Regions from separate parts of the Homo sapiens genome. Here region 1 is linked to region 2. Evidence: fine-mapped expression QTL. A gene starts in region 2. The other region holds a variant in brackets. All regions are shown on one strand. Distances are between the middles of the regions.

Evidence for each region. PIP is the estimated chance that this variant, and not a neighbour inherited with it, causes the effect.
Region 1: its variant is the best candidate, but not a certain one, in a credible set for the expression of NKAIN1 in nucleus accumbens (GTEx, PIP 0.62).

The regions. Positions count from the first base shown.
Region 1 is chr1:31,206,430-31,210,811 of GRCh38, forward strand. The region is part of intron 1 of NKAIN1 (sodium/potassium transporting ATPase interacting 1); the gene reads right to left. Among named protein-coding and RNA genes, the nearest start is that of NKAIN1, 31 kb to the right of the region's middle. The variant A/AC (reference allele first, on the strand shown) is at 1,914.
Region 2 is chr1:31,237,902-31,242,283 of GRCh38, forward strand. NKAIN1 (sodium/potassium transporting ATPase interacting 1) reads right to left here and starts at 1,986. Exons shown (of 7, transcript NM_024522.3): 1 at 1,593-1,986. The coding sequence starts at 1,646.

The DNA.
Region 1 (4,382 bases), 31 kb before region 2:
TTTATTTTATGTATTTAGTTTTTTGAGACAGGGTCTCACTGTTTTGCCCAAGCTGGAATGCAGTGGCGTGATCTTGGCTCACTGCAACCTCTGCCTCCTGGGCTCAAGTGATCCTCCTGTCTCAGCCTCCTGAGGAGCTAGGACCACAGGTGCACACCGCTACACCTGGCTAATTTTTTGTATTTTTGGTGGAGATGGGGTTTCACCATGTTGCTCAGGTTGGTCTCAAACTCTTGAGCTCCAGCAATTTGCCCATCTCAGCCTTCCAAAGTGCAGGGATTATAGGTGTGAGCCACTGCACCTGGCCTATTTTAATTTTTCTGACACAGGGTTTCACTCTGTTGCTCAGGCTGGAGTGCAGTGGCATGATCATGGCTCACTGCAGCCCCAACCTCTGAGCCTCAAGAGATCCTCCTACCTCAGCCTCCTGAGTAGCTGGGACTATAGGCATGCACCACTACGCTCAGCTAGGTTATGTATTTTTTTGTAGAGATGGGGTTTCGCCGTGTTGGCCAGGCTGGTCTTGAATTCCCAACCTCAAGTGATCCGCACGCCTCAGCCTCCCAAAGTGCTGGGATTAAAAGTGTGATCCTGTAATCCCACCTGGCTGTATGTGCTTTTTAAACTGTGTAGTGCTGTGCCCACATGTGCCATTATTAGGATAATTGTTAAATCCTTGGTTTCATACCAAGATCAGATTCTTGCTGCTTGTTCCCCAAGAAGCTGTACACCACAGAGGTTAAAAGTATGGCCTAGGAGCCAAACTATCTGGGTTTGAATCCTACCTTTAATACTTATTAGCTGTGTGACCTTCAGTAAGTCACTTAACCTCTCTGTTCTTTAATTTCAAATCCCGGCTCTGTCATTTATTAGCCAACTGTAAAATGGGGATGATGATAACAGTACCCATTTCAAGCGAATGTTGTGAAGCTTAAGTAGGGAATATGTGTCAAATGTTCAGAACACTGCCTGGTTCATAGCCATAGAAGTGTTAGCTACGATGATTGTTCCCTGTAGTGCAGACTCTGGGCCTGTGTTGCTCATACAGAGGACTCATGTACTGAAGGAGAAAGGATCACAGTTGTCCTAATGTGCAGGTCACTTTGAGGCCAGGTGGTATTTCACCCCACTCATCCCCAAGCAGCCCAGCAGCTGCCTGACCCCCCTGCCCCACTCTTGTTCTTCTTTGCCCATGAAGCATTCATGGGCACTGACCCTGGGTGCAAAGAGGAACAGCCCCTGCCCTGGCCACGAGCTGTGCCAAGTCTATGGTGACACAGACAAACTTCAATTATCAAATTACACAAGCCCAAGGAAGAGGGCAAGGACTGAAACTGACGCTGCCCACCCTCTGGGGACTTGCACTGAGCCCGCCCTGTACACGCTGCTTGATGTCCATATCATGTACTCCTCTCAACCCTTGGAGAAGTGTCATTTTACATACATGGATACTGAGGCCCAGGGAGGTGAAGTAACAGATCCCAGGTTACACAGTCAGGAAGCGGTAGAGGCAGGAACACAGATCTGCAGGCTCTAGAGCCTGTCTGCCACCACCCCAGGTTTCCCCACTAGCTCTCCTGGTCCACAGATGGCCGCTGGGCCCCCAAAGCATCACCGCTGTGGCCTGACTCCCTGCACTACTGGAACTGGAAACTCTCCCAATGGATCCGCTCATGCCACCGATGATGGCTGAGATGTGTTCTGTTCAAATCCCCACTCCATCATTTACTAGCCGTGTGACCTCTGGCAAGTGTTTAAATCTCCCTAAGCCCGTTTCCTCATCTATAAAAAGGAAAAGAATAAAACCTCAGAGTCACTGTGACACTAAAGGATGCAAAGCATAATGCCTGGTACAGAAGAAGCACCCAACAAATGCCATTCTTTGGTCTCCTCTGAGTCCAATTCTTTCTTCC[A/AC]CCCCCCGCTTATGGAAACTTGTGTTCTGTTGGAGATCCGCCTCTGCTGCAGCTTTCTCATTCCCGGCTTCCTTTCGTGAAGATTTCTTTCATTCTTTCCAGAAGCCTTTCTTCCTTGCTAATAAGAGAAAATGCAGAAGTCCTACCCACAGGCCTTTGCTACCCTATCAAGCAGGGAAGCCTACCTGCCTTCACAGCACCCCTGGGGGTGGGGATCCCAGACACAGAGACACCAAAGCTCACAGGATCCTGCAATTAACCCAAGGTCTATGTGGCCCCCACATAGTGGGGGGAGGGGGCCCTGGAAACCTCTGATGTAAGTGCACAGTTTGTTAGGCCACAGGCCTCCCTCAAAATGCTCCCTTGAAGCTGCCCCGGACTTTGAGAGCGGTCAGCCCTTGTCTACAGCAGAGGCGTTACACAAACCTCCTGACTTTCAGGAACTCTGGCTCTTCCTGTTCCGTGCCACACTCTGGTGTGGGTCTATAACATGCTGTCGGACTCTGCGAGTTGTGATACTGAGGCCTTGGGCAAATCACACTTGATGTTCCAGGGCTTCAGTTTTCTCATCTGTAAACTGGGCAATATAACTCCTACCCTTCTCACCTCCCAGGGGGTGGGAGTGGATCCAATGGGGTAACTGACATCCTGGGAGCCATCAAGCTCTCCCTTCACAGGGAAGATGCCCTCCGTGGCTTTAACAGGAAGACCATCCCACTGGGCCAAGACTGGGCCAAGAAATGCAGCCCAGGGCTGGAGTGGTGGCTCTCACCTGTAATTCCAGCACTTTGGGAGGCCGAGGCAGGTGGATCACCCGAGGTCAGGAGATCGTGACCAGCCTGACCAACACGGTGAAACCTGGTCTCTACTAAAAACACAAAAGTTAGCTGGGCTTGGTGGTGGGCACCTGTAGTCCCAGCTACTTGGGAGGCTGAGGCAAGAGAATCACTTGAACCCGGGAGACGGAGGTTGCAGTGAGCCGAGATTGCGCCACTGCACTCCAGCCTGGGTAACAAGAGCAAAACTCCATCTCAAACAAAACAAAACAAAACAAAAAAACAACCAGCAGCCCAGCAGAGTGCAGCCTCCACCCCTCTCCCAGCTGAGAATCCCAACAGCAGATTCCACCTCCAGGGAGTCTCCTGCAAAAAGGGAGTCTCCTGGAACTCTTTTTTATCCTAAAAGAATACGTATAGCCAGGCATGATGGCTCATGCCTGTAATCCCAATGTTTTAGGAAGCTGATGCAGCATTGCTTCAGCCCAGGAGTTTGAGACCAGCCTGGGCAACATAGTAAGACCCCTGTCTCTACAAAAAATAAAAAAAGTAGCCAGACATAGTGGTGTATGCCTGTAGTCCCAGCTACTCCGGAGGCTGAGGTGGGAAGACCACTTGAACCTGGGAGGTCAAGGTTGCAGTGAGCTGTGATCGCATCACTCCCCTCCAGTCTGGGTGACAAAGTGAGACCCTGTCTCTAAAAAGAAAGAAAAAAAAAGTTAGCCAGGTGTGGTGGTGCATGTCTGTAGTCCTAGCTACTCAGGATGCTGAGGTGGGAGGATCCCTTGAGCCCAGGAGGTCGAGGCTGCAGTGAGCTATTGTTGGGCCACTGCACTCCAGCCTGAGCAACAGAGCATGACCCTGTCTTATTAAAAAAAAAAAAAAAAGATAAGAATGAAGAGGACTCACAATGGCTGATCCAGCATCATCCAACACATCATCCAGCATTCTACTCTGAAATAGAGCCTCCTCCTTAGTTCACGCCCACCAAATTCAGGGTAGAATGATGCTTTGCAGAAATGCATTATGTCTTAGTAATGCATCTCTTAGGGCTCAGCGCCCTCCTTTTCCCAAGCCAGCAGGTACAAGAACTGCAACCTCAGAAGCCAGCCATACCCACGGGCCACAAAGCTATTAGGTTTGGTGCAAAAGTAATTGTGGTTTTTGCCATTCTTTTTTTTTTTTTTTTTAATGGAGTCTCACTCTGTCGCCCAGGCTGGAGTGCAGTGGCACCATGTTGGCTCACTGCAACCTCCGTCTCCTGGGTTCAGGCAATTCTCCTGCCTCAGCCTCCTGAGCAGCTGGGATTACAGGCACCCACCACCACGCCCAGCTAATTTTTATATTTTTAGTAGAGACGGGGTTTCACCACGTTGGCCAGGCTAGTCTCGAACAACTGACCTCAGGTGATCCACCCGCCTTGGCCTCCCAAAGTGCTGGGATTACAGGCGTGAGCCCCCACACCCGGCTTGCCATTACTTTCAATGGCAAAAAACGCAATCTCTTTTGCACCAAACCTAACAGTAGGTCACTCAACACAGCTGAGCCCGTTTCCTCATCTGAAATGGAGATCATTTCTAACAGAACCCACATCTGTGCATCAGGCCAGGGAAAGGTTGACAGGGGTGAGTAAGGAGAAAGGGTCCAACCCTGAAGTTAGGGACATGGACATTTAGAATCCCTGAAGGAAGGG
Region 2 (4,382 bases):
ATTAAAAAATTAACAAACACAGAAGAATCCTCTGAAAGGTTTAAACATTTCTTGGCATTTCATGTTCCTCAAAGTAGATAAAGAAAAACAGACAATCTCTGCCCTTCTGGAGTTCCCATTCCACCTGATCTTAATTAATTCCCTCTGCAATCCTCAGGGATAATCATTTTACAGATAAGAAGACTGAGGCCGGCCAGTGGGGGGAAGTCACTTGTCCAGTCTCCCACAGCTGGGAGCAGGGCTACAATCTCCAGAGCTAGGGCTGTTTCCACCACTGCCCAGGCCAGGTCTGTGGATGGCATGTTTGAAGCTGGTGTCCCCAGGAGGAGAGAAGCAAGACGAATGAGGAGGTCTGCATGTCCAGGCTCAAAACTTCACTCTACATTATCATTGGCTCCTGTGGTGGGGAGGGCGTGATGGATGCAGGCAAGAGTGGAAACCCAGAACAAGGAGTCCAGCATGAGGGGGGCTCAGGCTCCTCGCTGCCCACTCTCAGACCTGGGTTCGGCGATGGAGGTCCCCATGCACCTCTGCCTAGAGGAGAAGCACAGCTTCAACCTCCCTAGTTGTTCAATCTCAGCTCTAGGGTAGGTAGGAGACCCCTGCCTCTCCTTAACCACCCTCCCAAATTCCCCTGCCAGGGCCTGATTTGAAGGGCAGTGCTGTTTCTTCTAGTCCACTACAGTCACTCCTCCCTGAGACAAGAACCTGAGTTCCCTATGCTGGGGCTAGGCACAGTGTCCTCAGATGCTCTGGTCCTCCCTAGGGCACCCAAGTGTCCCCATCCCCACTGTTGCTGGCCCCGGCAGAGGAGCTGCTCTGGTGGGTGGAACTGATGACTGATGGAACCCCCATGGCCACAGCGGCCAGACCAAAGCAGGAAGTGTGGTCCAGGCTGGGTCAGGCTGGCCCAGGATCTGGCAGCTCCTGGTGACCCTCTCCAGGGAGGTGGCTCTCCTTTCCCAGGACTGCCCGGTCAGGAAGGTGAAGGGAGGCAGAAACAACACAAAGGATTGGAGGGTTCTTGGAGTCTAAGATCCCAGAACACAGATGAACATGGGCCAGAAATGGTCAGCGATTTAGAGACACACCAAAGAGAAACCCTGAGAGACACACGCCGGAGCAGAGACTTTGTGAGAAACGCTCACACAGGGGTGGTGATCAGAGGCAGAGACCCAGAGGAAGGGAGAGACCCATGCAAACGAGGGATCTAGAGGGAAACACACAGCAGGACCTCAACGGATCCACAGATCAGCCTCAGACACACCCCCAGTCCCAGCAAGCCACCGTCCCACAGCGCATCCCCCAACAGGAGGCCACTTGTACAGTGCGGGCGGGCCGGGGACTCGCGCACAGGACGCACTTGGGGACCGGAGGAGCGCCGGGCACAGCAGCGAGAAGCGCACACAAAGAGACAGCCCGGCCAGCGGGAGCAGGCTCCGCCCGACCGCTCCGAGACTCCAGACCACCCCCCGCCCGGGCACACGCACCAGACACACACACAGAGACACACGCAACCCCACCCGCACGCCCTGGGACCGCGCCCCGCCGCGCCCCACCCTGCCCCGACTGCCTGGGCACGCGACGCTTACCAGCTGCAGGCAGCAGAAGGCGACCAGCGTGCAGCGCCCGCTGCACTTGCCCATGGCTCCGGGGGCTGCGCGGGCCGCACGCCGCGGCGCCCTTCTTGCTCCGCGGCCGCCGCCTGCTCGCGCCGCGCGGGCTCCACGTCCTCCCCGCTGGGCGCGCCGGGCGGCGGGGCCGGGCGCCTAGGGCCGGGCCCGGGAGTGTCCGGTCCCCAAGGCTGGGGCCGGCCGCCCGCGCTCCGAGTCCATGGTCCGTCCGTCCGCGCGCTGGCCCCGCCGAGCCGCGCCTCCTTTGTCTAGCGGGCCGTCCGTCAGGCGCGCCTCCTGCCCCGGGGCGGCTGGCGGGGAGCGCGGAGCAAGGAGAGCGAGCCCCGAGCGCGGCGCAGCGCAGAGCAGCACTGCCCAGCTGGGGCAGTCGCCCGGGCTCTCGTCGGCCGCGGCTTCCCGGCCCCACCACGTGGCTCCGCCGCCGCCACCGACAGGGAGGGAGTTGGGGGGAACGGCAGAGGGGTGGGGCGGGGGAGCCGCCGGAGGGGAGGGGAGAGGGATAGGGAGGTGGAGGGTTGGAGAGGCAGGGAGTGAAGTGGAAGAGTGCGTGCGGGCTTAGGGGACAACAGCCCTGAGTCAAATCCAGACTTTGCTGCTCACTCGCTGTGTGACCTTGGGCAAATCACGTCACCTCTCTGGACCTGTTTTCTCATGAACAAAGTAGGAATAATTATGCCTCTTTAGTGTAGATATGAAGATGAAATGCAGTCATGTGAATAAAGCGCTTAGCCCTGTGCCTGGCCTCCTGGCTTGGAACACTTTTTTGTCCACCCTGTCTCTAGGGCTCCAGGGTTCCAACTTGGACTTCTAGTTCTATTTACGTTCCCAGATCTGCTCCTCACCCCAGCCTCTCCCCTGAGTGTCTGGCCACATTTTTCGCCTTCCTTCTTTCCGTCTACTGGCATTTATTGAGCCCTGACTGCATACACACCCCTGGGGGCCCTGCGAGCCAGAGATGAGACCTGCAACACTGTTCCAAATCCCGTAGAGCTGCACCGCCCAGGGAACAGATAGGCTCCCAAGAGCACGCCAGTGAGATGGGTGATGGCAGAGATCTGCCCAGGTGGAGGTAGGGAGCCCCTACCCTGGGCTGCAGTAGGGACAGAGTCAGAAGTTTCCCAGCAGAAGATTGCCTTCTCCAAGCCACCCCCAAAAGCCCTCGAACTGGACACATCTCAAATCCACATAATCATTCCTGTCCCACTCCTAACTTCCTATATTCACCTTGGCAATTAGCATCACCCAAGTGGAATTTCCTAGGTCATCCTCCAGGCTTCCCTACAATTACATCTGATCTGTCACTACATTCTATAAACTGTACTTTCCAACTAACATTTATGAAATACCCACTATGTGCCAGGTTCTCTGCTGGGGATAAGGGAACAAAACCCGACAAAATCTCTGCCCTCATTGAGCACACAGTCTAGTGAGGGATTGTCATTAAAACAAGGAAATATACAAATAAATACGCAAAGTTCTGATGAATACTCTAAAGAATATTAAAGAAGAAACGTGGCACGGTGGCTCACACCTGTAATTTCAGCACTTTGGGAGGCTGAATCAGCTCACTGCAACCTCCACCTGAGTGGAGATCGGCCTCCCAAAAGTGAGTGGATCACCTGAGTTCAGGAGTTCGAGACCAGCCTGGCCAACGTGGTGAAACCCCATCTCTACTAAAAATACAAAAATTAGGCAGGGATGGTATCAGGCACCTGTAATCCCAGCTACTCAGGAGGTTGAGGCAGGAGAATCGCTTGAACCCGGGAGGTGGAGGTTGCAGTGAGCCAAGACCATGCTATTGCACTTTAGCCTAGGCGACAAAAGCGAAACTCTGTCAAAATAAATAAATAATAAATAAAATACTAAGGGAGAAAAGAGAGAATGAGAGGGGCATAATTTAGGTTTGGGGACCAGGAAACACCTCTTTGAGGAAACGAAACTGATACTGAGACGACAATAGGAAGGAAGGAGAGGCAGGGGAGTGAAGAGTGTTCTGGTGGAAGAAACAGAAGGTTCTTATTCTTTCCCTTCCTCTCCACTCTCACTAGCCCTCTTGATTCGAGAGACAGGAAGTATGGTAAGATGTAGGTTAGGACCCGTGGTTTTGGACCCAAACGGCCTGGGTCCCGGTTCCAGCACTGTCACTTGTTTGCTGCTCACATAGTAAGCATGCAAATAAATGTGTCACTGTTTTCTTCCAGGACTGGCTACATAGTTTGGGGGGCCCAGCACAAAATGAAGATGCAGCACTTCTTGTTAAAAAATTAAGAATTTCGGCCAGACGCAGTGGCTCATGCCTATAATCCCAGCACTTGGGAGGCCTGGCCAGATGACAAGGTCAGGCGTTCGAGACCAGCCTGACCAACATGGAAAAACCCTGTCTCTACTAAAAATACAAAAAATAATTAGATAGGTGTGGTGGCACATGCCTGTAATTCGCAGCTACTCAGGAGGCTGAAGTGGGAGAATTGCTTGAACCCAGGAGGCAGAGGTTGTGGTGAGCTGAGATCACCCCACTGCACTCCAGCCTGGGGCAACAAGAGCAAAACTCCATCTAAAAAAAAAAAAAAAATTAAGAATTTCAAGATGGCAACACAGCAGAGCGTGAAGTCAAGAACATGCAGGGGGCCGGGCGCTGTGGCTTACGCTATAATCCCAGGACTCTGGGAGGCCAAGGCAGGCGGATCACTTAAGGTCAGGAGTTCAAGATCAACCTAGCCAACATGGCAAAACCCCATCTCTACTAAA